Linked DNA regions of Homo sapiens: regions 1 and 3 are each linked to region 2. The links come from fine-mapping of genetic effects on gene expression. A gene starts in region 2. Each other region holds a variant in brackets. All regions are shown on one strand. Distances are from middle to middle.

Evidence for each region. PIP is the estimated chance that this variant, and not a neighbour inherited with it, causes the effect.
Region 1: its variant is the best candidate, but not a certain one, in a credible set for the expression of TMEFF2 in esophagus mucosa (GTEx, PIP 0.84).
Region 3: its variant is the best candidate, but not a certain one, in a credible set for the expression of TMEFF2 in subcutaneous fat (GTEx, PIP 0.65).

What each region holds. Positions count from the first base shown.
Region 1 is chr2:192,228,663-192,239,565 of GRCh38, forward strand. No RefSeq gene overlaps it. Among named protein-coding and RNA genes, the nearest start is that of TMEFF2, 39 kb to the left of the region's middle. The variant C/T (reference allele first, on the strand shown) is at 7,067.
Region 2 is chr2:192,188,944-192,199,846 of GRCh38, forward strand. It overlaps TMEFF2 (transmembrane protein with EGF like and two follistatin like domains 2), which reads right to left and starts at 5,990. Exons shown (of 10, transcript NM_016192.4): 1 at 5,410-5,990; 2 at 2,937-3,046. The coding sequence starts at 5,581. RefSeq lists an enhancer at 5,936-6,511.
Region 3 is chr2:192,240,977-192,251,879 of GRCh38, forward strand. No RefSeq gene overlaps it. Among named protein-coding and RNA genes, the nearest start is that of TMEFF2, 51 kb to the left of the region's middle. The variant T/C (reference allele first, on the strand shown) is at 5,313.

The DNA.
Region 1 (10,903 bases), 40 kb after region 2:
TTTTATGGACCCATCTTCCAAGGTCATGAAAGAGTGTGTCTCAGGATTTACTTCTGGAAGAATGAAGTGAGAAGAATTTATCCTTCAGCTCCCCTCTTCATTGGTTAAAGTATTCTCCTTGAGGCATTGACTCCTCTGTGTTTCCAGATTGTAAGTGAATGGATGTTAAGGAATTCAGGCAGAATGTCTCATGCCTCAGCATCAATAGGGAAGCCACTGCCTGAAGCAGGATGCAAGAGATACATGAGTAGTTCTTGGGTGATGTGTCTGAGTAAAGTTAGTCAGAGCCCATGTGCAGTTACTTTATGTAGCAGAAGCTGGGGAGGAACAGGTATTTGAAAGACCAGACAGGTGAGGCTGAGAGATTCTGTAACTGGTACATAGGTATGATAGGGATAGGAATGTGAGTTTATATATAAAGAGTGTCTGGTAGGAATATAAACATGGCTTCTCTGCCAAATGTCACTTTTACAGAGAGGATATCTCTACTCCTTGCCCTGCATATTTTTTTGTTGGAGTAATTAATACTTTGTGATATTATGTTACATACTGTTTTGCATGCAATTTTCTTTTCTTATTAAGATGTAAGTTCAGGTTCAGGGTCATTGTTTAGATCATTGCTATCTATCCACTGCTCAGTACAATACCTTGAACATAGTTGATGCTCAGGAAATACTTCTTGAATAAATGAGTGAACTAATTTATTAAGTTACTTGCTCAAGTTCACTCAACCAGTGACAGAGAGCAGAGGAGAACTTAGTTAATGTAGATTCAATTCATTTAACATTGTCTAATCTGGGTACAATATTTTGATAAACTATGATCCAAATTACAGAGAGTTAGATTATAATATGATGAATTAAATAAGGAAAAATCACTAAAATTTCATATGTCATAAATTATCTAGGTCAGCACAGTCCAATAGAAATTCAAGTGATGATAAAATGTCCTATATCTGTGCTATCCAATTTGGTAGCCACTAGCCCCATGTGACAATTGAATGCTTAAAATGTGGCTAGTAGACTAAGTAACTAGATTTTTAATTTTAATTATTTTATACTTAAAAGGCCACATGTGGCTACTGGCTATCATATTGGAGAGTTCGTCTGTAGGTATTTGTTTATAATTTCAGAAACTAATCTTTTTTACAACTGCCTACTTGACAAATGTGTCAGTTCTGAAGATTTAAATCAAGTGGGACCAATAATTTGACTCTCATTTTATATTTTAATTTTTCCTTCTAGAAACTTACATGAGGATTAATTAAATAAAGGGGAGAAATTGATTTAGAATGTCAGAGTAAGTACTTGGGGGACAGATATCACTGGGTTGTTTCAATAGTCTAAGATTTTCTGTTTCCTCTCTGAATGATCAGATTGCACCCAGTACTAATGTGAGTAGGACAAAGTTTGGGCAAATGGAGCTTAACTTTCTTAAATATAAAAATTATTACTTATTTTTTTCCCCTTCAACTCTTCCCAGATAGCTTGATGATTTAGCTTACTGGGAATAGTCACTCCCATCTTGGAAGAGAGCACAGCACAATGAGCAAATCCCACTCACTTCAGGGGCTTGAGGAATGCTTTTAAACTGTATATAAAACTGGTTTAATGAGTATTTGGGATATTGTTGTATTTTCTCCCAGATTTTAGTCTTTCTAGGAGCAAACAAACTGTCCTAACCTTTTCTAAAAGTGAAAAATCAACGTGGAGTAAGCATATTCTCTAAAATATCTTTACACAAAAGAACAAAGAAAAATACATTGGGCTGGCACAAGTCATTTTGGTTGTATTCCTTGTATGTTATACACATTTTAAAAGGAGAGAGTGAAAGCCAGTCAAAGAAATATGTCCCATCCTAATAAAAATATAATCTGTTATAATGCCAAAATAACAGGGATAGTAACATAACAGCAGTGAAGAAAACACGTGATAGAAAATTAGAGACATTAGGCTTAACCCAATTAAGATGGCATATATTTAATGACCTCCGGAGAAAGTTAATTTTTTAAACCACACTCTCTCGCTACCTGGAAATATCTCTTTATGTCTGACTTAAATATCTCACAGTGCAATTTAAATTCATTTCCTTTTTGTGATGCCCAGTGGAATAAAAAGTATGCACTACTTTCCTTTGAGGGGTAAGCCATAATTTGTTTAAAGATCAATAAATATTCAGCTTCTCAGATTTCTTCAGGCTAATGACTCTATTTAATGTTTCCTTAGAGGTCTCCATTATTGTTGTCATTCTACCCTGAACTCTGTCTAAATTCTGTGTGTTCTTTTTAAGCTGATGAGCCTCACAGTCATTTTCACAGACTGCATCTCTATACGCTAAGTGAATGGCCCAGAGCACTCAACAACTAGGCTTGGCTGCCACAAATGCCCTGCCATTATACACAATCACCACCGTGCCTGTTGTTCTGCATTCTCTTAATGTACTACATTGGAGTGGAGTCAAGTATGAACAGAAATGCCAAGCATTTGACTCCACTTCGATGATATTTGTAGATATGTAGGTAAAAGCAGTCTTTTGAGTATTTACTTTTCCCACTCAATATTTTTTTCCTCTTTATTTTTTGCCCTCTTAAAAGGTACGTTGCTGAGATCTGGCCGTATGTGGCTTGGTTGCTGTGTTTTAAACACTCCCTCTGTGTTGTTCCCTTGAAAGCCTTGGCAAATAGGTTAGAATACCCGATTTGCTGCATTTTCCATGCTTATTGCTGTTTTCTTTTCCAAGCTTGAGAAAATAACTCAACATGGTGTGTGGATGAATGCCTTTCATTCCTGTATGCTGCCTCCAACTTTTATAGTTCTATTTAGTTTTCTTCAAATTATTATTTCAACAGTTATTCTACATTTCTCTACTGTTTCAAGAGCAAATATCTTTTTTATTTTCTTCTGGTTGTACAAAAAGTTAGTAAAATCATAGCCTGGAGCTTTTAAATATAGAATGGGCATTAACTGCACTCAAGTAACTATTTCATCTAGGCTAGGAAAGATATTGAATTTGGAGAGCTGGGGACAAAAACAGTAAGGAAGCTTTGTGAGTGAGCACAAGATAGATCTCCCTAAATGTCACTTTGTATTTTTGTGTCTTTCTTCCTTCTTATATGAATATGGTGTGATCAGTCACAGATTCTTTTAGTTTGTAATGCTCTACGGAAAAAAATGTAGCTTGTCAGAGAGGCAAGTTCTTGGAGAGGCAAGGGACTCTCACTGGGGGGCCCTTGACCCTTCTCCGGTCAAGGCTTCCTGTGGGAAGCCTTCCCTGACTGTCCTTCTTCAGTCCTTCTCTGAACTGGAATTGTGCTGGAATTGCCTATTCAAAAAAAATTTAAAAAACCAAACAAAACCTCTATGGAATAATTGAGGTTATTGCTAAGGGGTTTTCTCTATATTTGCAAATGAAGTTCTTAATTGTGACATGTCTCATAGCTTACAGTTGATGACCATTGGCTCATACTTAAGAATAATGCTGAAAAAATTAGTTGATCTGTGCAATATATTATGTATTGTCAAGGCATGTTTTCCACAATAACAGTTCAAGGTATTTTAATTTCAGATTCTCAAGTAATTTTCACTTCCTCAAGTAATTTTCACTTCATGCTCTGGAATGCTGATAATTTTCACCCATTTTAGTACAATTGTTTTATTATTCTGGTTAGGAGATCTATTATATTTGCAGTTAAAGTTAGGATTACTAGTTTTCTTAGCATCAATATAATGTAAATGTGAAAATTTTTACATGTTTGAAAACGTCATCATTTCCCCCCCAAAGGAATGTTGGATTGCAATTGAAAACGCTAAATCCAAAAATTTCCTTCTGAAACAAATCAGCACTTCACCATAAAAATTGAGTGTCCTTATCATTTAGTATCCTTATTAATAATTATTCCTTTCTGCAATGGCAATCATTAAAGGCTAATATTAGACTATGATGGATAACAATGTATGCTATGGTGACAAGAATTAGCCTGTATAATAAATAATGTTTTACATGGTGTTCATACAGACAAAACTTCCACGACTAGTTTTTTACTGGTATAAATATATAGAATAAATGTAAATAAGTAAGTTCAACCAGACACTAAAATTGCTTCTTAAGGGCATTATTGCATTTCTAAGAGTAGGGAGGTTCTAAGTTTAGTTAAATTGATGTTACTCATAAAGAAAAAATGAAGCAATTTGTAAAAAATGCTGAGCAGAACATTAGGAAACATTTATGAAAATATTTATTACATAATTATCAAGTCAGTAGTATCTTAAGTCAACATGGTGGAGGGAGATGAGGTTTATATTAGAATATAAGTTGTGCCATCTAATAACTGTGAGACTATGAAAAAATACTCTGTAGAACTTATTTCCTTCTAAAGTAAAGGCTCATGCCACCTCATACGTTTAAGTGAAATAAGGACTATAGAAATCCTGACTGATAAACTATTCAGTCCATATAGATTTTTTTTTTTTTAGAGAACCTACCATGTGTGGACTTACAGCATATATAACATAGCCTTGGTTCTTGCCTTGACAAAATAAATTACACAGATAATTACAATGTATTGAAATCGAGATGAGTGCTATTCAGGAAAAGCAAACAGGGACAGAACGGCATCTATTTCTAGGATCTAACTTATTGAAGGGTAAGTGAAGCCACACCCAATGGAGTGCCATTGAAATGGGAACCTAAAAGCAAGAAGAGGAGGTATTGCCTGATAAAGTGAGAGAAAAGTCTTTCTGTCAGATGCAAGAGCTGATGACTCTGGAATCTAAAGCAGCTTGGCATGGCCCAGAAATGAAAAAAGTTCAGTAAGGCTATGAGAGTCTCTTAAATTTCTTTTTCAATATCTTACTTGTTTATGAACTCCCTAATATTGTTAAGGATCTTATTCTTCATTTTTTTGTCCTAATTTTTAATATGTAAGTTTTGTTTATGGCACAGACCAAATAATTACTGAACTGAAGTCTGGCTATTTTAGGTGTCTAGACTTAACCTAAGTATGCCTTCCTAAGCATGAAACTTAGCCATAACTGTATGTTCACTGACTACCAGACTGGGTCTATCAGGAATGATAGGATTCTCATGGGCCTATTCACATTTTAAAATTTGTTATTTCTTATAGTTACTAGTAGTAAAAAACGTGCATCTGTACTTTTGCTCCATTCTTTGGCAAATAAATTGTGATATCTCTAGTTGGAAATATTTTTTAAAACATGAGAACTATTTATTAAACCTAATTGCTTCCTCTTCTCTAATCCTCTAAATTTAAATTTATAAAATTCTTTATATAGGAGACAATTTACTTTCATGTTTTGTTTCAGGAAAATAAATGAAGCTTCCTGAGCTATTTTCCAGAGGCCTTATCACTAAACAATGTACTCATTATTTTTAGTTTAAGCATGAACAGATGTGGGTTTTTATTTATTTATTTATTTAAACTAAGACCTACCATTATGAGAAGTAATTTAACAGCCATGCTGCTTTAGGACAAAGGATTCAATAAATGTTTATTGCAGTTGTTATATATTGAACGTGTGTCCTAAACTGTCACTTCTAAATTAACTGTTACTACTACTATTGACCTTTAACACAGTTTCTTAAGTATATAATTTAGAAGGAAAATTATCAACTATAATATAGCCATCAAAAACAGTTGTTTTAGTTGCTATATTTCCTTGGTATATTACAAGTCCTAATTACATATTCCATATGTTTTGTGAGGGCACACAATGTTAAAATAACTTTTTTGATTTTTTAGTTTAATAGCTTTAATGCCAAACAGCAAATATATTCAGAGTGAAATTTATCAACTATCATTTAAATGAACAAGAAAGAGTGTGACAAGTAGATGTACTAAAATTGTTTCTTTTAAATCAGGTAACTGCAGTACAAGTAGAAGTAGACTCTAATTGAAATGCATTTTCATGTATTCGGTTTATTCCAGACACAAGCTTTATGCAATTACCTTGTTAGCCCAGAATAGGAAAACATGAGAACGCAATACTTCTACTGACATTTGACAATTTAGATGTTATTGACATATATTGATTGATTGATTGCTTAAACTATGCAGATATTAAGATTTTTGGGGAGTAAAACTGTAAATCTGCCTGTGGGTTTTTGTTATATTATGATTTTTTTTGGTAGAATGTCATGCTTTCTCTTCCTTATAACACTTTCTTGTCTCATTATATCCTGTTATTTCATTTTCCTTGGCTCTCTCTTTTCGCCAATCCAGCTCCCAGTTTTTTTAGTAATTTAAAATCTTTCTCAGCTTAACAAATTTTCCTCTTCCTTCATTTTACTCTTTGTCTTTCTATTGTCCACATTCACTCTGTTTAACCTGACAGTCAATCCCGTAAAAAAGTTGATTTCTGTGATCTGAAATGCTTATCCTGAAACATCGGACAAATAAAAGACAATGCTGAATGTAACATAACATGATCTTTCCTCAGTTGTAACCACCAACATAAGTATATTTTCTTCTTTATTGCACCCCAGTCTTAAACTTACTTGATATTTTCATTCTGCTCCACTTCTCTAAATATTTTAACATTTATACTTATATTTTCCCATTGTTATTAATAATACTTAATAAGTCAAAAATTTTCTTATGTTTGTTCTTCTTTCCAAATATGAATACATTCTATATGACATTTTCAAGAGCCCTAGTTCTTGACATGCTTAATGGGTTAAAACTTAAAAGAGATTCATACCACAGCTATTATTTAAGAAACATTATAAAGCTGCTTTCTTCTACTGGTGGATTCAGTTCTTGAGTTTTTTATTTTTATTTTTAAATTTTTTTTATTTATTTTTTTTTGAGACGGAGTGTTGTTCTGTTGCCAGGATGGAGTGCAGTGGCGTGATCTCGGCTCACTGCAATGCCCGCCTGCCTGGTTCAAGTGATTCTCCTACCTCAGCCTCCTGAGCAGCTGGGACTACAGGCGCCCGACCCACGCCCGGCTAATTTTTTTGTATTTTGGTAGAGACGGGGTTTCACCATGTTGGCCACCATGGTCTCAATTTCCTGACCTGGTGATCCGCCTGCCTCGGCCTCCCAAAG[C/T]GCTGGGATTACAGGCATGAGCCACCGCGCCAGGCCCAGTGCTTGAAATGTTTAACGTTAATGAGTACTATAGCACTATCAACATGAAAAAGTTAGCAACTTGTCTGTCAGCCTTTTCAAAAGTATTTCCAGCTTAAAACATAATCTGAAGTATCTGGCATATAAATCGCTTACATTCTTTCGGTACAGTTTATTATTCTTAAATTGGACAGGATTAGGTAAGATGTTAAAACAGAGAACAATTGATTGTTCTCCAGGATAGTGGAGGATTGGGAATAGCTGAGAGAGAATATCAAAGGGTGAAGTTGTCACTTGTTGGACGTTAAGTTGAACGCTGAAGAGGCTACTGATTTTCTAATTTTGTTTGGGCATGACAATGGAAGAAAGAAAACTTTATTGCTCTCAACTTTCCCATGTACCTCCCATGATTTCACTTGGAGAATATCTTGCCTCTTCAACTCTGAATCCATGCCTGCATTTCCTTGTTTTTCTCATTATCCTACAATGTTGATTTGGTGTTTTCTAACAGGCGATATGGATATTTGAGAAAACATCTTGGCGGAAATGATTATAAACTTACCTCATGTCCAGCAGAGAAGACTGTTTCTACACACGACCACATCTATACTTAAAGTTTTTTGTTGGAATTAACTGCCGAATTCCAAAAATAGTTTTGGTAGTACTCACTTCTTTTTTCTGGGAAATATTGAGTCATATGGTGACTGATTGATTTTTCTTAATTTTTTTTACATATAGAAAAATTCACTCTTAAGATGGAGTGTTCACCTTGGTTTCAACTTTCCTAAAGTAAAATTTCATAAAGTAAGACTTGATTTTTTTTGCGTTGATGCATCAAGAACATATCTATCAAAATTAATTTGATATAATTTTACTCTCCCTTTTTCCCTATACCTGAAACCTCAATGTTCATTTTGTATCCTGGAACAACAACCAACAATAATTTGTGAAAGCAAAACTTGACTGAGTTCATTGGGATCATTTTCTGTGGCAATAATCTAACTTTTCTATCATAGTAACAGTAAAAATAAAACATTTTCAAAGTGTTAAATAAATTATTAATGATTAAAATGAACAAACAATATTATACACTTCTAATCATAACTGCATAAAAAAATTCTGACAGAATATACAAGAAGCTATTGTGAGTGTTTGTTGCCTGAGCAGGGGACTTGGAGCCTAGTCTGGGAGGAAAATAAATTGCCTTGTATACTCTTCATTGTTTTAATTTTTATTTTTTATTATTATTATTATTATACTTCAAGTTTTAGGGTACATGTGCATAATGTGCAAGTTTGTTACATATGTATACATGTGCCATGTTGGTGTGCTGCACCCATTAACTCGTCATTTAGCATTAGGTATATCTCCCAGTGCTATCCCTCCCCCATCCCCCCACCCCACAACAGTCCCCAGTGTGTGATGTTCCCCTTCCTGTGTCCATGTGTTCTCATTGTTCAGTTCCTACCTATGAGTGAGAACATGCAGTATTTGGTTTTTTGTCCTTGTGATAGTTTGCTGAGAATGATGGTTTCCAGCTTCATCCATGTCCCTACAAAGGACATGAACTCATCGTTTTTTATGGCTGCATAGTATTCCATGGTGTATATGTGCCACATTTTCTTAATCCAGTCTATCATTGTTGGACATTTGGGTTGGTTCCAAGTCTTTGCTATTGTGAATAGTGCCGCAATAAACATATGTGTGCATGTGTCTTTACAGCAGCATGATTTACAATCCTTTGGGTATATCCAGTAATGGGATGGCTGGGTCAAATGGTACTTCTAGTTCTAGATCCCTGAGGAATCGCCACACTGACTTCCACGATGGTTGAACTAGTTTACAGTCCCACCAACAGTGTAAAAGTGTTCCTGTTTCTCCACATCCTCTCCAGCACCTGTTGTTTCCTGACTTTTTAATGATTGCCATTCTAACTGGTGTGAGATGGTATCTCATTGTGGTTTTGATTTGCATTTCTCTGATGGCCAGTGATGATGAGCATTTTTTCATGTGTTTTTTGGCTGCATAAATGTCTTCTTTTGAGAAGTGTCTGTTCATATCCTTCACCCACTTTTTGATGGGGTTGTTTGTTTTTTTCTTGTAAATTTGTTTGAGTTCACTGTAGATTCTGGATATTAGCCCTCTGTCAGATGAGTAGGTTGCAAAAATTTTCTCCCACTCTTAGGTTGCCTGTTCACTCTGATGGTGGTTTCTTTTGCTGTGCAGAAGCTCTTTAGTTTAATTAGATCCCATTTGCCAATTGTAGCTTCTGTTGCCATTGCTTTTGATGTTTTAGACATGAAGTCCTTGCCCATGCCTATGTCCTGAATGGTATTGCCTAGGTTTTCTTCTAGGGTTTTTATGGTTTTAGGTCTAACATGTAAGTCTTTAATCCATCTTGAATTAATTTTTATATAAGGTGTAAGGAAGGGACCCAGTTTTGGCTTTCTACGTATGGCTAGCCAGTTTTCCCAGCACCATTTATTAAATAGGGAATCCTTTCCCCATTGTTTGTTTTTCTCAGGTTTGTCAAAGATCTGATAGTTGTAGATATGCGGCATTATTTCTGAGGGCTCTGTTCTGTTCCATTGGTCTATATATCTGTTTTGGTAGCAGTACCATGCTGTTTTGGTTACTGTAGCCTTGTAGTATAGTTTGAAGTCAGGTAGCGTGATGCCTCCAGCTTTGTTCTTTTGTCTTAGGATTGACTTGGCGATGCGGGCTCTTTTTTGGTTCCATATGAACTTTAAAGTAATTTTTTCCAATTCTGTGAAGAAAGTCATTGGTAGCTTGATGGGGATGGCATTGAATCTATAAATTACCTTGGGCAGTATGGCCATTTTCACGATATTGATTCTTCCTACCCATGAGCGTGGAGTGTTCTTCCATTTGTTTGTATCCTCTTTTATTTCATTGAGCAGTGGTTTGTAGTTCTCCTTGAAGAGGTCCTTCACGTCCCTTGTAAGTTGGATTCCTAGGTATTTTATTCTCTTTGAAGCAATTGTGAATGGGAGTTCACTCATGATTTGGCTCTCTGTTTGTCTGTTATTCGTGTATAAGAATGCTTGCGATTTTTGCACATTGATTTTGTATCCTGAGACTTTGCTGAAGTTGCCTATCAGCTTAAGGAGATTTTGGGCTGAGACGATGGGGTTTTCTAGATATACAATCATGTCATCTGCAAACAGGGACAGTTTGACTTCCCCTTTTCCTAATTGAATGCCCTTTATTTCCTTCTCCTACCTGATTGCCCTGGTCAGAACTTCCAACACTATGTTGAATAGGAGTGATGAGAGAGGGCATCCCTGTCTTGTGCCAGTTTTCAATGGTTTGGATATTGCAATAAAGGAAACAAATGATTTTTTATTCAAATAATGAATGATGAGGATTACTGAATAGCATATGACATGCAAACTATAGATTTGTGTCTTGACCAATAACAAAACTACCAGGAGAGTCATCAAACATATTCGTTTGCTGAATAACCTGCTTGTTTTCTAGAATGTGTACACTACACTACACATACACACACACACAGGCACACACATGTAGAGCTGCATTATAGTTCCAATATTTGCTAAAATATTGGTAGTCATTTTGTAAATTAATATGATATCATATATATATATATATATATAAAATACTTAAAAGTCTAAATCATGGACCTATACCATCATTATTTAGAAAAAACACGCTAACTTTTTTGATGATTGTATAAATGTATTTTTAATATTGATTATACTTCTGACTAGCTATTACTTTTGCTCATGAGAGACTAGACTCAAAAACAGTTGTCCAGTCCCATGCAGAGATAGTACG
Region 2 (10,903 bases):
TGAAATGATATGTACGACAAACCCCCGTGACACATGTTTACATATGTAATAAACCTTCACATGTACCCCAAAACCTAAAATAAAAGTTTAAAAAAGGGGGGAGAAAACAATTATCTCACCGGGTTGTGAGAAATAAATGAGATAATATGTTTGAAGGACAGAAATCAGTTTATTTAAAATCGTCTAAGAGAGGTGAAGGCTAATAATGTTTACTTTAGTGTTCCAGTGATAAGGCAAATTGAAAACATTATAGGTATAAAAATATATGCCCATTTCTCTTTGAAATTTATCTCTCAGCTAGAAAGACTATAGATTGCAGGCTGGGTGTGGTGGCTCACACCTGTAATCCTAGCACTTTGGGAGACCGAGGCGGGTGGATCTCCTGAGGGCAGGAGTTTGAGACCAGCCTGGGTAACGTGGTGAAACCGTGTGTCTACTAAAATTCAAAAAAATTAGCTGAGAATGATGGAGTGCACCTGTATTCCCAGCTACTCGGGAGGCTGAGGCACAAGAATTGCTGGGACCCAGGAGGTGGAGGTTGCAGTGAGCCAAGAGGGCATCACCACTATCCAGCCTGGGTGGCAGAGCAAGACCCTTGTCTCCAAAAATTCCAAAAAAAAAAAAAGGAATGCACGCTTGTACCTGAAAAGGCAGCAGAGAAAGAAACAGAAGTTTAGGATAATATATAGGAAAATAGATTTTCAATACCTCTCCCTTTTTATCAGATACTAGGGCTAAAATAACAAACACCAAAAACTCAAATTCATGTATTGGGAAAAGATGGACTCAAGAGACTCTTAGCTTAAAATATCCTATTTATTATTCTTCATGCAACTTATACTTTTCTTTGATTTTCAACTTAATTCAGCCACTCTATATTCTTGGTATGTGCAAAGTCTACATTTTCCACTAGGGAGATGTTTATTTTTTCTTGCCAGATTGACAACTATTGCAAAGCACAAACTAATAGCAGTAGTAGTACACTAGTACATTTAAAATGCCACAAGGATTACAAAAAAACAATTTACATTTTAGTTTCTTACACAGACTTGCATTCGTTTCCACTCCCCCATCTATTCCACTTAACGATTATTTAAATTAATGACAAACATGACTGGCCAATGTATGAAAAACACAAATATTTTTGTTGATAAAAGTTTTACCAAAATCTTCTGTGGCACCTATAAAATGAAAACAATTCCTTTAATAAGAAAATTATTTATTTTCATTTCGTAGCATTCATCCCTTTAGAGTTCTGTCAACCCCTTTTTTTTTTCTCCTGGTGAAATCTTAGAACCATGGCTTTACATTTCAGGAATGTTTTTCCTGGTTCATTTGATACTTTTTATGAGTTCATTGCTTTTGTCTACCCATGGTTATGAAAATAAGACAAATTTATGGAAATCACAAAGGGAAAGAAGGAAAAAATTCACAAAATTCTCTGGGACTTTAATTAATGATTTATCCAACTGTGCTTTTTTCCTGTTTAGTTAACATTTGGGTAAGTATGAATTGGGGAGTTCTCATACTCTATCTCTCTCATGTAGTTCATTGGAAGTACATAATGGCACTGTTTAATGTGGCTGCAGACCTTAGAAGTTGACGTTACATGCATATTAAATATGCAAGAATATGTTTCTGACACTATGGTATGGTCTAAAAAACTGTACAGTCAGAGCACTACTTACCCACCAGGAGGTGGTGCACTTTACAAATATCAGTTGTCTTATTATGTTTCTTAGAAAGAATAAAATAATGTCTAAGAAGGTTTTAGCATTTCTAAAAGCCACTTAAACTTTATTTAAATGTGAATTCTCTTCTCTTTCTTAGTGGGAGGTTGAATTCCATCTAAAATATTTAAATTTCATCAATAATTCTAAATATTACTTATTAACCAGATATCTAGGTCTAAATTTGAGTTTATTGTTTTTATTTGTTCTATATCATTTTTATTCTTACAATCTTAGAAAAGTTTTCATTATCTCACATACAGTTTTGTTTATGTGCATATTTCCTGGTTGAGTCATATTGTCAGATTTTAAAAGTATTTTTAAAAGTAACTTAAAATACTCAAGGGCAAATATAGGCTATTAGTACAACATCCATGCTACTTGAAGTTCTGCATGATTATATGAACACTTTGAGAGGAAAAGTTTTATAACTTACATGGTGGAAAGCATTTGTTAGCTAATGACTATACTAATGACACTAAAAGTTCTATCTTTAATAGATACTAATAACCCAGTTTTGATCATGCCAGTAGTGCAACTTCTTTCTCTCTTTGTTAGTTAAAAGAAATTAACACAAGAAAAAGTACATTTCCTGATGTTCATAAAATGACTTGTGGATCTAAATGCTCTTCTGGATTCCTAGGGGATTCAGTTCTAATTGAGTGTGGTATCTATGAAAAAGCTGATATACACTAATTAATAAGTTCCATGATTTCCAAATTAGAACAAAGTGTTGAGGTTACACTAATAAGGAGTTACCTTAAAAACCTAGTCAGGTTGCAAGGATAATAAAGGCCAAGACCATTAAAACAGATAGCAATAAGATAAAAAGATGATAGCCCCAATCAAAAAGAACAAAAGAATAAGTCCACACTTCTTACCCCCTATTTTGACTATTATCCCCAGTCAATTCACTTTTAAAGTGATGCTAGAAGGGTCAGAGAAACATAATTTTCCTTTGACATCCCAAAAGCACAACCTGAAGCTTTCTACCTCCAGCAGCATTTATAACTTTGGCATATACATTTCTCCAAAAAGCGTATGTCTTCTTGACATCAGTTGGCTCTCTTGCTAGTACTTTTGCTTGGTGCCAGCTTCCCTCTTAGCTTGCATAGCTATAAATTTCCAAGTGATAGGCTGTAAAGGAAGATTCCTGCTTTGCAGTCTCATTAATGAATTAGAAGATGCAAATATAAGACTTCTTACCTTGAACTGACAGACGCAAGTCACAGTGTCTCCAATTCTTAAACATTCCCCATCAAATTTACAGGTGTTGGTGTCACAGAGGAAGAGATCATTTTCTCTGTCATCATAACCTCAAATTCAAAGAGAACACTCCAGTCATTAAAACATCTTACAGATTTTTAACAAAAAAAAGCACTACTTTGAAGCTTTAAAATACTTGTCCTAAATTTTAAATCCAACAACTATAGCTGTACTGCAAGGTCACTGTCTACTGATAACCTCAAAATCTAGTTAAGTGATCAATATTCGTTTCCATTTTCCACAATTCTTTTCTAGTCAATTCTCCTTTAGTATCCTTTTCTGATAGTGCTATTTTTTAAAGCTTGCGTTAATACTGACAGTGGTGAATGAAAGCTTAACATTTGCTTCCTGTTTTTTTTTTATTTTTATTTTTTGCTCATTAGGTGGACAATATTTATGACCACAAAACTCCACATTTTGGAAAAGAGCTAGTGATGATCTCTGAATACCCTTTTACCATTTCCCCATCTTTAATTGTTCTTTTGCTTCAACGACTGAAACAACCCCTTATTTGAAATGTATCCAGACAAAGAGGAAACAAAGCCTCAATAATAAAGATAAACAGGCACAGTGTTTTCTGTGATGGTCTGTTTGGCTCAAATGAAGATTGATCACCTCTAAGTTAACAGGGGTGGAAGCGGGGTGCCAAGTTCTTGACAACCTATCTGCAAAACCAGTTTATTCTCTTTAGTTTATGCAGTCCCCTTTAAAATATCTGGTAAATATGTAATTTCTTGATTGCAAATGTCAACTTCACATTTAAGTTAGTTATTTCCTAAAACAATGCAAGGGCTAGGAATGAAGCAAACCAGTCTGTGTTGGACTACAAAGCCATCAACATTTCCAAAAATTGTTTTTGCAGGCTCATAATTATTACCATAATAAAGCATCTAAAAAGTGATTAGGCAATAGCAAAGTGAAACTTATTCTTTCAAAAACAACACACATGTACGCATGAATCAAGAAGTTATAGAAACATGTTGAGTTTTATTAAAATGCCAAATTTAGAAACTGCCAAAAAAGAGAACAATCTATTGACCCAAATCTAATAGGGTTGCATATCTCAACTTGTCTTTGTAAAGGATAAATTAGAATGATGCATAATAATTTTCCTTTTGGCATTTACATCAGTAATAACTAGGAACTATACAGGCTTTCACCCTGAGTTACAGTTGGTCATTCCCTCCTCTCTAAAGTTACATACACTTCAGCTTATATACATCTTTGAAAGACACTTTATTCAGAGCCAGATTTAACTACAGCAAAATTATATTCACAGAAGATGAAAAATTACATACACACTTGCTAAAACTAGAACAGACCACACCTAGGGGACAATACCCAGGCATGTTAACGGAGTTTAAAATGCCAAGGAAATTACACCACAATTCTGCCCAGTATACTACAGGCTGTCAAACCGAAATGCTATGCCAGCTAGGAGTGCAGCAACTCCCATCCTCTGGCCCTATTTAATTAGGAAGCTTCAGCAGAGCGAAGCCTGCCAAGCGTTCGCCGTCAGAATCTGAAGGAACCCGAGCGAGCAAGAAGAGTGCCTGACCCACTCCACAGAAGCCTGTCCAGAAATGGAGGAGTCAGCGCCCACTGAAGTCGGTTCCGCCCTCGGCTCGCCTACATGGAGCCTGACCAGCCTCAGTCATGCCCACTCCGGCCTGGGAGACCCGCAAAGTGTTCTTTTTCTCAACTCCCCTGTACTACCTTGAAGCTTAGGGAAGCAAAGAGAGGGGCATATCTGGACTGCAAAACCAATGTCTTTTGCCGCCTAGGAGAGAAGGGAATGAGAGAGAGAGAGAGATAGATAGATAGAGAGAGAGAGAGAGAGAGAGAGAGAGAGAGAGAGAGAGAGAGAGAAATTCTATTGAAACCCAGCTCCTCTAGAATCTGTGTGACCTGGTCTTCAACGGGAGACCAGTGCGACCTCATGGCACCTTTGCCAGGAATCAGCGATTCCCCTGCAGTCACCATTTGATTTATTGCTTTCTCGCTCATTCTTTCTCATAAAGTTATTTCTTCCTCATCCTAGTAAGACTTTTTTCTTTAATGATGACAAAGCTTCTGTTTCAGTGTTTCCCCTAGGATTGGTGCTCTTTCAAAACAGTGAACCCAGAAAACCATCCCGTTTAATATTTCTCAAAATCCTCGCAGCTCCAATGTAAGCGCAAGCATGCAAAGGTTTCCTGCTACACCTGCACTTTCTGCCCATCCCAGAACCACCCCTCACCCCCGGGCCTGCAACAGTTCCCCTTGTTTCTCTGGATAGAGGTGGGTGGTATTAGGGGTCTAGGGCAGTAGGAGGTGAGGGGCTGAGGAGGCGCGCTAGGGTAGGCTGGTCTGTGCTGGATACGCGTGTTCTTCTGCGGAGTTAAAGGGTCGGGGACGGGGGTTCTGGACTTACCAGAGCAATTCCAGCCGGTGGGCGTTTGGCAGTCACTTAAGGAGGTAGGGAAAGCAGCGAGCTTCACCGGGCGGGCTACGATGAGTAGCATGACGGGCAGCAGCAGCAGCCAGCAAAAGCCCTCGCAAAGTGTCCAGCTGCTGCACTGCCGCGGGGACTCCCACAGCACCATGACTAGTTCGTGCAACTCTGCAGCAGCAAACGGCTTCCGAGGAACACAGGATCGCGGGGGCCGGGCAGCGGGCTACTGAGCATCCCGCGGACGGCGGCAGCAGAGGCGGCGGCGGTGGCAGTGGCACCCGGCGGGGAAGCAGCAGCCAAACCCGCGCATGATCTCGAGAGTTTCAGCAACATCCAGGGACTGGGCTCAGCCCCGGAGCGAGAGGGTCGTCCGCTGAGAAGCTGCGCCGGAGACGCGGGAAGCTGCTGCCATAAGGAGGGAGCTCTGGGAAGCCGGAGGACAGGAGGAGACGGGAGTCCAGGGGCAGACGAGTGGAGCCCGAGGAGGCAGGGTGGAGGGAGAGTCAAGGCGCCCCGCAGCCCGGCAGCCGCCTCTCGAGCTCTGCCGCCCGCATCCCTCTGGCGTTTGGGAAGCAGCAGGTCCTCAGCCCGCCCGGGGTCACGTGGGAAGAGGCAGTCGGGCTCTGATTGGTGGAGCAGGATGCAGGTCCCGGGAGGGAGGGGTCGACGAGGAGGTGCAAGGATGCAAGGAGGAGGCGGCCGCGGAAGCCACAGATGGGCTCGCTCGCCAGGCGCTGGCCCGAGTGGGGCTAGGCGGGGATGGCTCAAATGAGAAGCTCGGGCTTCAGGGTGGGCTACCCGCACACTCATATACCATTCGCCTCACTCTCCGCTCCAGGACGCCCCCTACCGAAGGCGGGGTCCGGACTAGCGCCCCTCTTCCGCGCGTGACCCCGGGCCGCGAGTGCGGGCCGCGGCTGGGTGGCGTCTCTCCGAGCTGGAGATGGTGGGGGCGGAGGTGTCAGAGGAGCAGCAGCAGCAGGGCAGAGAGGGGCGAGTCGGCGCGGGAGAGGGCGTCCTGCTGGCGACCGGCGCTCCAGCGTGCGGGAGCGCGCCGCCTAGGCTGTAGGGGGATGCAGGCTGGGAATGTCGCGGCGGAGAGGCCAGGGACGTTTCTCTAGGGATTTACAGGAAAGAGGGTGAGAGGCGATGGTGTTAGAACCGCTCTTGCCGACCTGGAAGCAACAGCAGCATCTCCCACAAGAGCGTGCAACCCCAAGGCTGCTCGCCGAGGCAGCTCAGCCATCCCGGCAGGCGCTCTCCTTCCTTCTCTCTTCTCCCCTCTCTCCTCCCAGGCCCCCCGCAGCTCCGACCCAGCCCAAGCGTTCGCAGGTTTGAATCCCTCTCCTCATCACCCGCTCCTCTCCAGCCCGTAGCCTATTAGTGTGTCCACCTGGGAGGTGCGGTCAGATGTGTTTGGAAGGTCAGATTGGTCGGGACAAGTGGTCTGAGAGAAAGAGAAAGGCTCCTCTGCATACGCCGCGGGTGGGTTGCCGGGAGCATCGGCCGGGCAGCGGCGTCCGGGAAGGGGAGAGCGGGCTCCATTTGTTGGCCCAGGCAGTGACCCTGCGTTCCTTACTCGGGTCTTTGCCGGATGGCCGGTGACCTGGGGCGACGAGAGAAGGTCTAACTCGGCAGGAGTCTCTGGCTCTGCGCGTTTCTTTCATTCTCTCCAGCGGGAAGGGCAAACGGCATAGCGGGACCCGCCTTCCGTCTGCTGCATTCTTCAGGCAGTTAGACACACTCTTTAGCCTAATGGAATTTTAGTCGCCAGTAACGGGACCAAGAGCTTTCGGGGACAAGGGTGGAGAGGAACATCTTTCTTCCATGACCGGGGTCACTATTGCAGTCTCAGTGTTTTGGATGCCCCATAGGGAAGAGCTTTCTTTTTGGTGTGTGATTATTCAGTGATTCCTGTTTTTGTTTTTGTTTATCTTCTCTCCGCTCTCCTTCTCTATTCCTCTCTGTTATCCCTCCTCCTTCTTCTCCCCCCGCTTTCAAAAGCCTCCGGATCCTCCCTTTTTCTATTTAAATTCTCCTTTTGTGCCCCTCTTTCTGTGTCCCCTGAATTTAGGAGAGCATTTGATAACATTTAACAGGCAATTAGTGTCCATTCCCAATCACTTAAAAGAGGCATTCATATACTTTGAAAACGGGACTATCTATCCTTTGCAGACACCAGCAGAAAAACAAATTGTACCCGAGTAATCCTTTTAAGTACTTTAACCTCCAACCTCCTCCCACTTCCTTGCTTTTTAACTTCTCCTTTGAGAGATGTGATCGTGCAGCACCTCAGTGCCTCAACGAAATCTTTTTTTTTTTCCTGTGTGAAATCCATCCCTTTATCTTACATCTCCGCCTCCGTCCGAGACTGTCCCTCTCCCCTCCCACCTCCAAAGATTTCTGAATCTCAGTGTCTCTCACTCCTGGCAATTAAGCAGCAGATCCCAGCATTCTAGTCGGTGGCATCTCGCTCCTCACCGACGAAGACTCCATTAAAACAGATCAATTAGACCAGACGTTGGAGGCATCAGAAAATCGGCTTCTAGACAGAGCAGCTAAATTCTTTAAGGAAACAGAATACCCATTAGATAGAGCTGCCAACTAATATTGCAAAACAAGGAATTAGAAATTTCTTTCGCTACAGGCTTTCAGCAGAGAAGGCAACATAAATATAGATCAAGATTTAACAACTCTACAGCAGAGAATGAGAACATGTCATTTTCCATAGCAAGGCTGGTGTGGTAACTAATCAGGCTTATGAAAATAAGTCATGCTTGAAACTAAAGGCAAAGTCCTTAAAAGTGTTTATGCAGTAATTATGATAATGAAACAGGACCTGCTAGGATTTCAGAGTTTGGCTATGTAAGTAGAATTTTAGAGAACCTCTTAGCAGAGGAAAACTGTTTTTGAATTTTCTGCTAAGTAAATTTTTGGCATACTTTCTAATAATATATGCTCTTCCTAAGACGTTTTGCCAAAAGTAAGTTAAAACTCCAAAGGAGTTAATTACTGGTTGTAACTGGTTAACAAATGCGGTTGCTTCCACAGAGGTCCTTTAAATTATTAAACAGTTTGAAGCAAAGCCTTTTCAATGGGAATGCTGCAATTTTGTTGCACTTACTCTGTACTTAGTGTTATAGTGCCACCAAGAAACAAATTCTGAAACTGGCAAGCACCACCAAGTGGCAGAAGAACATCACTCATTGAGCAGAGAATTGTATTACTGAATATGTAAATAAAAATATATACATTATTTAGACTTGTCACTAGGTACCAAAGAAGTAGACAAGACTGCATTAGCAATTGGATTAGTGCTTTAACTTTTCCCCAGCAAGGCAAAATCAGTTTACTTATTAGAATTAAATTTAAGTCTATGAACTGTACTTTGCATTGCGTATCATATGATTGCTAGTAATATGACACAATCATACCATGTATTTGCAAAATTCTTATTTTAAAATACTATACCATATTTACTTTCAATCTTCTTGAGCTAGAACACTTTATTTGTGGCATATACACTCTAGAATTGATGCAGAGGAGCAGAGTCCAGTTGTTAGATTTTTCAGTAGAAATAGTGCAGATATATTTTCTCCAGAAAACTTAAGAACATTTTTTTTTCTCATGGAAAGAACATCATTATAAAGTGTGAGATTACTCACAGCTTAAGTAGGGGGCTTGGGAGTTATTCTCCAACAAGAATAGTTTAAGATAAATAAATGAACCTGGGAAAATAAGATACACTGCCAATCAGAACTCTTATCTCCTTCATGATTTCATACTTTCTGATTGCTTCAATAAAGGTAAGATGTATCCTTTGCTTCTTAGGTGTCAGGCATTGTGCCATGTAGGATAGAACATGTTATTTTTATTTAATCTTTAAAACACCCCTATGAGACAAAGAATATTATCTCATTTTATATAAAAGGAATATGGCTTTGAAAGCATCAGGCAACTTGCCCCAAGAAACAAATCTCGTCAGTGACACTGCTGGGACTCTGTGAAATTCTGCCTGACTTCAGAGCACAAGACATAAGTCACTAATTTCTGCTGTATTGCTGCCTGTTAGCTTCTGAGAGGGGAAACTAACTGGGAACGTATCAGTTCTGTCCATGATACTTCATTTGCCCTTTCTGTGGAGCCGCAGTAAGGCCCAAACTTTAATTCTCAAACTTCGGCAATAAGATCCAGTGATTTCTGAACCTGGTTGATCATATGAATTCCTTGAGAAACTTTGAAACAATAGACAAATTCCAAGTCCCACTATCAGGGATTCAGAAAATCTGGAGTTGGGCCTTGGGATCCACATTTCAATATTCATCCTTGTTGGAGAAGTAAGGTACCACCTATACCTATATGACAAATGAAAGGATACCTCGATTTTTGCTCAGTTTTCACAGAGAGGTTTCTGAGACAGGTTAAAAGCTTTTACTCAGTGTAAAGATGAGCTGTTGTACATGTCTGTCTCTCTGTTTTTATGCATATGTTCACCAAATATGTATTAAGCTTCTAATATGTCTGACACAGTAACTTTGTGACTGTAGACAATTTCCTCATTTGTAAAATGTGAGTAATAACAATACCTGCCTCCTGGGCTTGTTCTAAAGATTAAAATAAAAATGTATGGTTTAATGGTAGTGGATTTGGGGGGATCCCCTATATAAATAAGTGAATGGAGGTATGAATAAATAAATACATAAAGATGTGTGTACTTATATTTATACACATAATTAAAAATAGTTAAAGATGTACAAATTAAAGTTAAATGTATGTGATATTGAAGTATATGTTGATTATTGATAATGAAGTACAGTATAATTTCTAACCCCACACCTTAACATCTCATACTTAATAACTCATATCTTAATTTCTAGCCTACTTAAGATACATAGATATAGATAGAATGTTCTAAATCATTATTGCCTTAGTTTTAATGTATAATATTCATATGAAAAAGTATCTATCAGTGTGTAGTAAATGTATTAGAACATTATTTATAGGTCAAATGATATTGACAATGTTTCAGAGTCGTCATCTTCATTTCTGGATAATTTTTCAAACTGAGAGTAATTAAATTTGCTATTTTTTCACCCTTTTCTACAATGGCAAATAACATATAAACAATGAGCTGTGATTTAAAGAAATAATTTTATAATGTAAAAGCTTCCCTATGCCTTATTGATTCCCATGCCCTTAATTAATTTTGGTAGTTTAAGTTTGTGATTTCAGTGCTGAGGAAAGTTTATTTCATCTTAGAGCAGTGGGGCTCAGTCATGATTTCACATCACAATCACCTGGATAATTAAAGAATACTGATGCAGAGTTCGTATTCAAAGACTTGGAATCCCTAGAAGTGACACAGAAGCATTGGTATATATATATTTTTAAAGTTTTCCTGGAGAAACACATAGCCATGATTGAGAACCACTGTCCTGGGGAAAGTGACTATTTTCTCATTACTCAAATAGCC
Region 3 (10,903 bases), 52 kb after region 2:
GGAAATGAAAATATGCAACACAGAATATAGCTATAGAGAATACGAATCAATAAAAACATAAAAATTTGAGTACGTGATTTTTCAGAGGAACCTTGAGACACTAGAGCATATCTGGAGGAGAGCCATCAAGAAGATAAGGGGAAAGTGATGTTGTAAGTAATTTTTAAATATAAATATGTCTAATCTGAAAAATTATGGATTTAGAATATGATTCTGAAATTACATATATAAATTAAATGACATATATAAATTAAATGACATATATAAATTACATATGCACACATGTATGTATTTATGTGTATATATATTTTTAATTAAACTTAATATATGTAGAAATGTCAGAGCAGAGGTCAAAACTAGTACAGAATGATTAAATTTATAGGAAGGCAATTTTTGACTTTTAATAAAGTATATTGTTCTAACAGCTGCTTTTATTTCTTTGATTTTTTTAATGTTTCCCTCTATTGTCCCACTCCTGGTTTAAGTCTCCATTGATTTTGCATTTGGACTAGTATAATAGCCTGCTTACTGATATCCATGCTTTAAGTTTCCCAACCTTAATGTTCATCCTTTATTCTGGTGTCACACAGAACTTCCTAAAATATAAAATGAGCACATCCTTTTCCCTTTGCCAAACTTCAGTTATTATCTTTCACCTAGAGGATAACATCAAAACTCTAAGACATACTGCAGGCCTTCACCATCCTTAAGAAATATATTTCAGGTGTTATTTTTCATCCTTCCAATCACTCCACACTTCTTACATGTAAGTTCTAGAAATTTGACTTATTTAGATTATCATGCACACTCACACATCTAAACATGTGCTATTTCTCTTATGCTTATTTGGACTACACTTTCTCCTTTATTTTTCAATTACCCAGCAAAAATTGTTTGAAATGTCGCTCAAATATTCTTTCTTTTATGTGGTCTTTTCTAACTTTTCAAAGAGATAGTCTCTCTCTACCTTCTGGAGACTTTATTCCATTGTGACACGTAACATACTATTGTCTAGTTATTTGCTTGTTGGTTCATCTCTCTAAGGAGATAGAGTGCTTCTGGCAACCAACACACCCAGTATTCATTTTGCTAATTGCAGCATTAATACAGTGTATTAGTCCATTCTCATGCTGCTATTAAAGACATACCTGAGACTGGGTAATTTATGAAGGAAAGAGGTTTAATTGATTCACAGTTCTTCATGGCTGGAGAGGCCTCACAATCATGGCTGAAGGTAAATGAGGATAAAAGTTACATCTTACACGGTGTCAGGCAAGAGAGTGTGTGCAGGGGAACTCCCCTTTATAAAACTATCAGATCTCATGAGACTTATTCACTACCCCGAGAATGACATGGGAAAGACCTGCCCCCATGATTCCATAATCTCCACCTGGTGCCGCCCTTGACACTTGGGGATTATTACAATTCAAGGTGAGATTTGGGTGAGGACACAGCCAAACCATATCAGAGAGTATCTGGAACATAGTTGATGCCAAATTGATCTTATTTTTTTAAGTGTAGCAAATGGAGGTACTTACGCAGGAAGTAGATGTTAGCTTCTCAGGGATGCTAAGAGGAATTGTCTATATTGATATGAAGATGGACTTGGAGTCTTCCAAGAACACTAGCAAAACATTAAGATTTTGTGGTTGCAGAGTATTTTATAAAAAAAGGTCATACACGCACAAACACACACTCAAAAATAACAATAGTAGCAAAAGGGTCTCTTTATAGAAAATCATTATAATAAAAATTTTTCTTGAAGTAATTTGTTCCAGAGACACAGCATGTTGGAAATTTCATATACTCTTTGTGCTTAATTGCAAATGGAAATCATTGAGAAAGAGCAAATAAGCATGATATTATATGAAATATAGATATTCATTGGATATTCTTGACTACCTAGTGTAGTAAAACTGAAAGTTTCAAAAATTTGAACAATTTGTTTACCGATGAATGGCACTGCATTTTTGACTCTATTAACGTTCATTGTTAAATAGAAAAAATAACTAGTGTTTAGTGCTTAAGAAAAAAAGGGACTTCTGTAAAAATCTTACAGAGTGAAAAGTGTTTATATCATGCCTTCTGAAACTAGATGTAAAAAAAAGAACTCTCAGAAATGTGTATCAGTCTGAAATAAAGGGGAAAGATACCACATTATTTGTTGGTTTTGATTGAGATCAGGTGAAAAATATATTTTTAAAGATAAATACTAAGATATAAGCACAACATAAAGATAACTGCATAAAATAAGTTTATATATTTAAGACATAAAATTCAAATTTGATTATATTATAGAATAGTATATTAATATGACTAAGTGGTTGTTAAACTGTGGTTCTCTGCCAGTCTTCTGTTTTATCCCTATACTTAGAAAAAATAATACGAATTACTTGAATTAAAAGCAACAATAACAAATCAATGTATTTCAACTTTTCTTGTGATCTGGAGAAATATTAACCCTGTGCTACATGGTTGAGCATGCTGCTCCAGCAGTCTAAAGTTGTTATTTCCATTGTACAAAATACATTTTTTTCTCTATCTAAAGAAGAACACATAAACCTTTTTCAGGAGAAGAGATGCACAGATGGAGGTGGACAGCAGCATCTTAACTCTTAAATTAGTTCTTTGCAGCTTAGTTCCCAGATGTTCGTTTCTTCTGCCCCCTGCTTTCTTGAAGAGAGTTTGCCATTGTCTGTCAATGAGTCATATAGTGTCTTCTCAAATTTGGAGAAAACACAAAGCTACAGTTGGATATGGTGTTAGTCACTGACAGACAATGGAAAGCTCCAAGATGATACACTCAGAGGTAACTTGCATTGTGAAGAAAATTGATCACTTATCTTTTGTCCTGACATCTTCTAAATACTCAGGGTTTTACTATGTTGTCAAAAATTCAGCCACCGAAAACAGGTATTCCACTCAAAATGAAAAATATTTTTTAAATACAAGTGTTCTTTTTCTTCCTGGAATTTTATTCACCTCCCACACTAGCCTTCATTTTTTACTGTATAGATGGAATGTCTTTTTCTATCCTCAAGGTGCATTACATTCATCTGACAAGACATAGAGATGAACAGCTTTTTACTGATTCTGTAGGTTCACAAACGGTGAAATAGGTCCCTCTGACACCATTGGGTCATCTGTACTATATTTCCAAGCAGCCTTATCACAAGATGGCATCATGAGAGCTGCACTGTCACCTTATGTCCACCAGAAAAAAACCATGACAGTCTCCTTTGGAGGCATGCAGTATATTAAAATGCAGATAATTTGAAAATTTCATTTTCCAACAATGAAACATTTAAAAACAGATACTATATGTATGGCTCATGCTATATCAATGTATACAAGGGGAACAACTAAATAATGTAATGTTATGATAGAGTTTATCATAAAGCAAAAATGTTCAAACATACAATTCATTTAGCCTAAAGAAATGACTGTACTTTACACTGAATATATTTAGATTTTTTAAAATGCACACAAAATTGCTGAAGTTCTAGCCTGTTTAAAAAAATTGGGGGTAATGGGACTACCACAAGAAAATATAATAGCTAATTTTTAGATATTTTAAAAGTCAGTCATAAAATAAAGGTTAAAATGCTTAGTGTCACTTAGAGGGAAAAGCTAAAACTATTGCGTGTCATTCACAGGAAGACAAACTTCAACACAATATAAATATATATTTTTTCTTATGAAAGAGCATGATGCCACACAGAGTAAGATCTTCCTGACATTGGCTAAAGAATTAGTTGCCCAACTATCTTAAATGCTTTGAGAGATTACTGAAATATAAACTCCTTAAGGGCAGAGACATTTGTATTTTGTTTTGCTTACTGCTGTCTTACTCTCTGTCCCTAGAACAATATCTGCCTGATGGTGGCACTTAATGTGTCTCATAATGAATCAAAAGAATTGAAGACTTTTAAGGTTTTAACATAAAATCTGTCATTTTGTCCTGAGAAATCACCTTTATATTCAGTGTCTTTGCTTATAACCATAGACTATACAAGAAAGCTAAAATAATTTTGATAGTAATTTAAAACCAAAAGATTTTTAAGGTAGCCAATATAAATTCATGAGAAACTTTGTTTAAATAGTGTCCAAAGTTGCCCTTAATTTTCTTTCATTTTATTTTTGTTCATATATTAATAGCTAAACATGAATTTTAAGTGAAATTCAGGGTAGAGGCACTAATCGTGGATGATCACTAATTCTGCATCTTGATTTTGATGTACCATATGCAAACTGAATATATATCTAGAAAATTTTTCACAAAATTTTTTTTCTATCAGATTGGCACTGTAGAAATAGTATTAGCTGTCTATTGCTGTGTGTCAAATTGATGCATAATTCAGCAAGAAGACAAAAACTCTACAATATCTCACACAATTTTGGAGAGTCTGGAATCCAGGAGCAGCTTTAATGGGTAATTCTAGCACACAAGGTTGCAGTCAAGCTGTTAATCAGGACTACAGTCATCTCAAGGCTTAACTGGGGCTAGAGAATTTGTTTTTAAGCTCACTCATGTTGTTGTTGGCAGGCCTCAGTTTCTGAGTTCTGTGCTGCCTGTTGGCCAGAGGTTGCAGTTCCTCACTACACGGGCTTCTCACAATGTAAGAGATGGAGTGAGCCCAAGATGGTTGCAATTTTATAACCTAATCCCTGAACATCATTACATATAGCGTGTTATTAGTCACACAAATTATCCCTCGTACAGTATGGGAGTCTGAATACCAGGATGTAGAGGCCATTGAGGATCATCTTGGAGACTGATCATTGCAGAAATAATTTGATCTATAATTTGTTAGTTACTTCTAAACACAATGCTTAATTACACATACAAATTAAAGACAACAATTTGGAAACCATGATGGGGAAAAGAAGGCCAAGAATTTTCTCATTTAGCTGTCTAAATAGATCAAATCCTGGAGCTCAGGTTTATCTGATTTGGTTAAAATTCATTTTAGTCAAAAGTTATTTGCTTTTTTAATAAATAGAGAGGTATAAAAGAGATAGTCATTTTATTTCATGTTGTGATGTTACATTCTTTGAAAGAAATAAAGATTGAAATGATTACTACAACAGTCAAGGGTGTCAAAACAACATCTTTCAAGACCTGTCTTGCATCCTCATCGAAAGGTCTGAGTAGTTGAAATAACTGGAGGACTAATTCTAGAGCTTTTTCTCCTGTAAGGAATACAGGTAGTATTAAAATATCACCTTCATGGTTATTAATATAGTCAAGCTGACAAGAGTGTTATTTTAGCATGGGTCAGAGGCAAAGTTTGCTTCAGTTTCTATTCACA[T/C]GCAACAATTCTTTGGCAATTTTTCTAGAAACGCATATTATCCTCAAATATAATATCCTTGGAAATAACAGCCACAGAACAAAATGCTGGATTACAAAACATTTTGAGCTCTGGTGGGAACAAAATTTGCAAGGAAAGTACAAAGTGTTATTAACAGCAGATTCATGATTCATTCCAATTCCCTCCGGGAATCCTTTCCTCTACCCCAAGAGAAGAAATTTCCAATGAAGAAAAGGCAGAGGACCCAGCTGTTACATCTAGACTATGTCCCGGGGATTAAATCTCTTCTGGGCTCCAAGGAGCACAGGGATCCTCTCTCTGCCAGGATTCTTAGTTTTCAACAACAAAAAATTGTCTCTGAAATATTTAAGTGGAAAAAGGCATTTGCTAAACATAAAAAAAAAAAAAAACTGGGCAGCTCAGAAAATTCTTAGGAGGTCTGGCGTATTGGGCTTGAAGATAGGCAGCCAACCATACCAACTACATAAAGAAGAGAGAAATAAGGAAACATGGCTTCCAAAATTAATAATAATTTTTTTCAACGTTTGGCATATAGTCATATGTCATAGCTAAAGACCATGTTCTAATACATGTAAACAGAGAAATTATCTGTACATTGATTCTTCAACATGCACTCAACAGATACACATTAAACTATGGGCCAGGTATTAGAAATAGAGTTGTTAGAGAAATTCAAAGTTCTTACCCACATGGAGTTTATATTCTAATGACTTTAATCAGTTAACATCTTACTTACACTGCTTTTTTCAACTAAAATTTCAACTACATTCACCTCATTAAGTTTACTGTGCCCCTACTATACGTTATATTCCAGCCTCTATGGGGTTGCTGAAAATTGTGGAAGCCAGATCCTTATCTGGACTTCATCAATATAATCCCATAATATCAGACAGTATAAGAATAACAGGATCCTATGTAAGTATTAAAAAATTTGACAATAAAATGATACGCAAAACGTTAATTTCAGGATTTGCTAAAAGTCATTTTATGGTATAAAAAGCAGCTAATCCAAATCTTATTTTTGGCCTTTACATGGAAAAAGTTTCTGTAATTGGAAAAGTCAGTCTTTGTGGATATATTACACATAGCCAATAGTTCAATAAGTCTCACTTTTCTATAAACTAATGAAATGTTCTATATGAAGGATAGTACAATCTGTATAATTTTAGTAGATCCTTTGTAGATTATATAATCAGTTTCACACATGTTAGAGGGAGGCATGATTCTTTTCTTTAATCCTTTATTTACTTGAAATTGAATTAAAGTCGGTTGGAATCAGCTGATGAAAGCTCTTTTGGAAAGTTGGAAGCTGAGGGACAGAATGTTATGAGGGCTCTTAGGTTGGGAGGGAAATTCATTACATTTGACTCATGATTTTCTTATAGTAAACTAAAACAGGATGTTATTTCCCACAATGTATCAACTATTTTTGAAGGATAATTGTTTAGCAGCTCACCAAATTCTGGGACATATGGATGGCTTAGAAAGTTGAGGGAGAGATAAGTTACTTTAACGCTGAAAAATGCGAGATGTCACAATTTTTTAAAATGTATCAATCTAACCTAGGATAATTAAAAAGCCATTTTGTAAAGCAAGAAATTTATCCATCTAACAGCTATATCATGGGAGAAGAAAATTTAGAAACACTCCAAAATTGAGTGATACGCATAAACAATTTTCCATATAATCCCACCACAACATCTTCTCACCCTCTCTTATCTCTGCCTTCCTTCTTGTTTCTGGGAGAAAAAAAGTTGGTGATCTTAGCAAAATTCAGCCTCTTGTGCATCATACATAATTCCCTTTCATCTACTTAAGGGTATATTTCTAGTATTTTTTTCTAATTGATTCTTGTGTTATCATATGACATGCCTTAATCTCTCCGATAATAATAGTATCACACACTTTCTTGATTTTTTGTTTGTTTGTTTTTATTTTTTTGAGACAGAGTCTCACTCTATTGCCCATGCTGGAGTGCAATGGCGGGATCTTGGCTCACTGCAACCTCTGCCTCCCAGGTTCGTCATTCAGCCTCTCAAGTAGCTGGGATTATAGGTACGCACTACCATGCCTGGCTAAGTTTTGTATTTTTAGTAGAGACGGGGGGTTCACAACGTCGGTCAGGCTGGTCTTGAACTGCTGACCTCAGGTGATCCACCTGACTTGGCCTCCCAAAGTGCTGGGATTACAGGTGTGAGCCACCGTGCCTGGCCTACACACACTTTCTTGAAGCCCCACTTTCCCTTCAGTTCCAAGCACATTTCTCTGTTTCTTTTTATTGCACAATTCTTCAAAAAGTTGTTTCAAAGTCCTCTCCTTGGGTTTACTCTTCAGCTTACACTAATATTCCTTTTTGCCCACATGGTTCCGTTAAAACTACTCCTGTCAAGTCCACCAATAGTATCTATAATACTAAATCCAATAGGCAATCGTCAGTCCTTATGTTACTTGACTTCACAACATTAGATGAAGTTTATTTCTTTGAAATGCCATATACTCTGCTGATCCCCTTCCTTCCTTTATTGCTCAGTTATTTCCCTAAAGTTTCAATGGTAGCCAGACCTTGGACATCTTTTCTTTCTCATTTTGCTCACTTCTTAGGGGCTTTCATACAATCTTTTGGCTTTAAAGCCATCTATTTGTTGATGACTCCCCAAATTCTATCTCCAGTCTAAACATCTTCCCTGAATTTCAGAGTTCTAGCTATTTGTCTACTTCACAGTCTTGGATGTCTTTTGTTTGTTCTGTGTCTATTAAAGACATAAGAGACTTAACAAGTTCAAAAGCCACTCCAAGCCTTTTCTTCTAAGCTTTCTCCCATGTTTTTTCCTGACCTCAGGTATGGCAAGTCCATCCTTCTTAGGCCAAAACTTTGGGGCTATCATTCAGTTCTTCTTGCCACATACATTTGATGCAGTAGCAAACCGTGTTCCCTCTACCTTCCAAATATATTCAGGATCTGACTATTTCCCACCACATCCATTGCTACCACCCTTCCCCACGCCACTACCTCTCCCACTTGAGTTGTTACTAGAGTCCAAAAGTTGACTTGATCCTTATGCCCTTGTCACCCCCCACTTACAATTTATTTTCCACACATCAGATAGAGCTATCCTTTTAAAACATAAATAGGATCATGCTACTTCTTTGATAAAAACATTGCCTCTTACTCAGATAGAAGACTAGGTCATTGTAATAGCCAGCAAGTTCCCAATTTCAGTGCTTCTTGACATAAGCAAATTAAAATCACCTGGGCAGCTTTTGAAAGACACCAATATCAGGGTCTCTTACTCAGAGATTTTAATTTAGCAATTCTTGTATGGGATCTGGACAATGATATTTTTAAAATGTTTTGTTAGGTAACTGTATTAGTCTGTTTTCATGGTGCTGATAAAGACATATCTGAGACTGGGAAGAAAAAGAGTTTTAATTTGACTTACAGTTCCACATGGCTGGGGAGGCCTCAGAATCATGGCAGGAGGAAAAAGTACTTCTCACACGGCGGCAGCAAGAGAAAATGAGAAAGAAGCAAAAGTGGAAATCCTTGATAAGCCCATCAGATCTCGTGAGACTTATTCGCTATCACGAGACTAGCACGGGAAAGACCAGCACCCAGGATACAATTACCTCCCCCTGGGTCCCTCCCACAACATGTGGGAATTCTGGGAGATATAATTCAAGTTGAGTTTTAGGTAGGGACACAGCCAAACCATATCAGTAACTATCAAGTGCAGCTTGGATTGAGAACAATTGTATCTCACTTTCTGGGCCCACTATCTCTTTGAACTAAATCTTTTCCTCCTAGATCATTCTGCTTTAGTACCATTTGGCTTCTCTGATATCTGAAAAACACATCAAACATTTGTGTACCTCAGAGTCTTTTCATCTGTTTAGGTTTTCCCCATAATTTCATTACATTTTGACCTTGTGTGTTTGGTGTATTTATTTTCTGTAACAATTCAATAGAATATAAACTCCAGGAGGGCTGGAATTGTTTTTCTGTGTTGGTCACTGCTGTATCCTAACCCATAGGACAGTTTCTTGTCCATAATACACTCCCAAAAATATTTGTTAAATATATGGTCTATTTTTAAATCCTTATCCCAATACAAAATGTGAAATACATGACATTTTTTTAAAGAAATTTGGGCTTGGGGAAGTGGCGATCAAAGTGTTCTCTCTTTTTGATGTATTGATTTGAGCCACTAGTTGAATACCTATATGAAAATGTCCATCAGGAAGACGAAAATATGACTGTATTTATGAGAGAAGTCAGGGGTGTAGGGACAATTTTGTTACCTGTCCAATTAGAGTTGATGGCTGAAGCCACAGAAAGTGGTTTAGAGTCCCACTGAAGAGCATTTAGAGGGAAAGGGTTATTGATACAGAAAATACACATGTAGAAAATATACCAGCATTCATAAAAGGTGAAAGAAATCAGTGAAAGAGGCTGAGGAGCTGTGGAGGGTCTCTCTACTCCCCTGGCCAAAATGCCCCAGTCTCTTTCATTGGGCCCTCCCGTTTCTCATGATCACTGAGTGCAGATGCCAGGAATGAGCTGCACATGTAGTATTCCTTGCTCTTTCCCTGATGCAGTATCAGATAAGTGAAGTTATTAGAGGCCTATACAGTTGTCTCAACTTCCCTGTGTCAATAAGGGACAAATAAATATTCTCCTTGGTATTACAGAGATGAAGTCTGGGAATGCATCTTGTGAATTTAGCCTGTACTTTGAGTTCTTGTGAGGTAGTAATGCCACTTTGTATTCAAAATGGAGTTTAGCTGATAAGCATCTGCAGAGACTTCACAGCACCCTCTGCAGCAGGGAAATGTGGAGTGGAAGGTGCTAAAACTGTAATTAGAACAAGGCATCTGTCTCCCAGCTCCTACAGAGCAGCTACTAATCAATGTGATCACTTGCTTTGAGTGGGGAAGTGCTCACCCATGGCTCTGCTGGACTTTTTCCCAGCCACTAGCAGACTGGATATTGGTAAAGATTACCATTGGCTCTGGAGAGATAGAAGAAAGTATTAGTGCTTGGGAAAAGCAGCAGTTTTAAAAGGTGTTTGGTAGGGCATGTGTTGATTTCGATTTCCTGTCAATCGCATATTTCCAGAATAATCTGGAGGCCAATTATTACTAAAAGTATAGCTCATGCTGAAGCATTTGCAGGCTGGTTATACAGAACTTTTTTGATTTCCTAGTCCATATGTTTACTTGCCCTTAGGACATTTTGCTCTTATTTGGCAGTTTTCCTGCCAAATAAAAAAAATCCACTTAATGCAATCATATCAATTTGATATCTATTACCAATTCTGATTTGAGCAGCATTTTTCAATGTATGATCTGTAGAATACTTCTTTAAAAATCGCCTTTAAAAATGTTTCTTTAATTCAATATTCTGGATAAATGCTACATATTATATCCCCCCTTTTAAAAATTCACAGTACACACTGGGGTATTAAAGGCTTCTAGCTCTCTTGCAAAAAAGAAACTGGTTTTAACTGTGTTGAACCTAGCATTTCCCAAACTTATTTCTTTAGAGAGTTTTTCTTTTTCTTTTTTTAAGA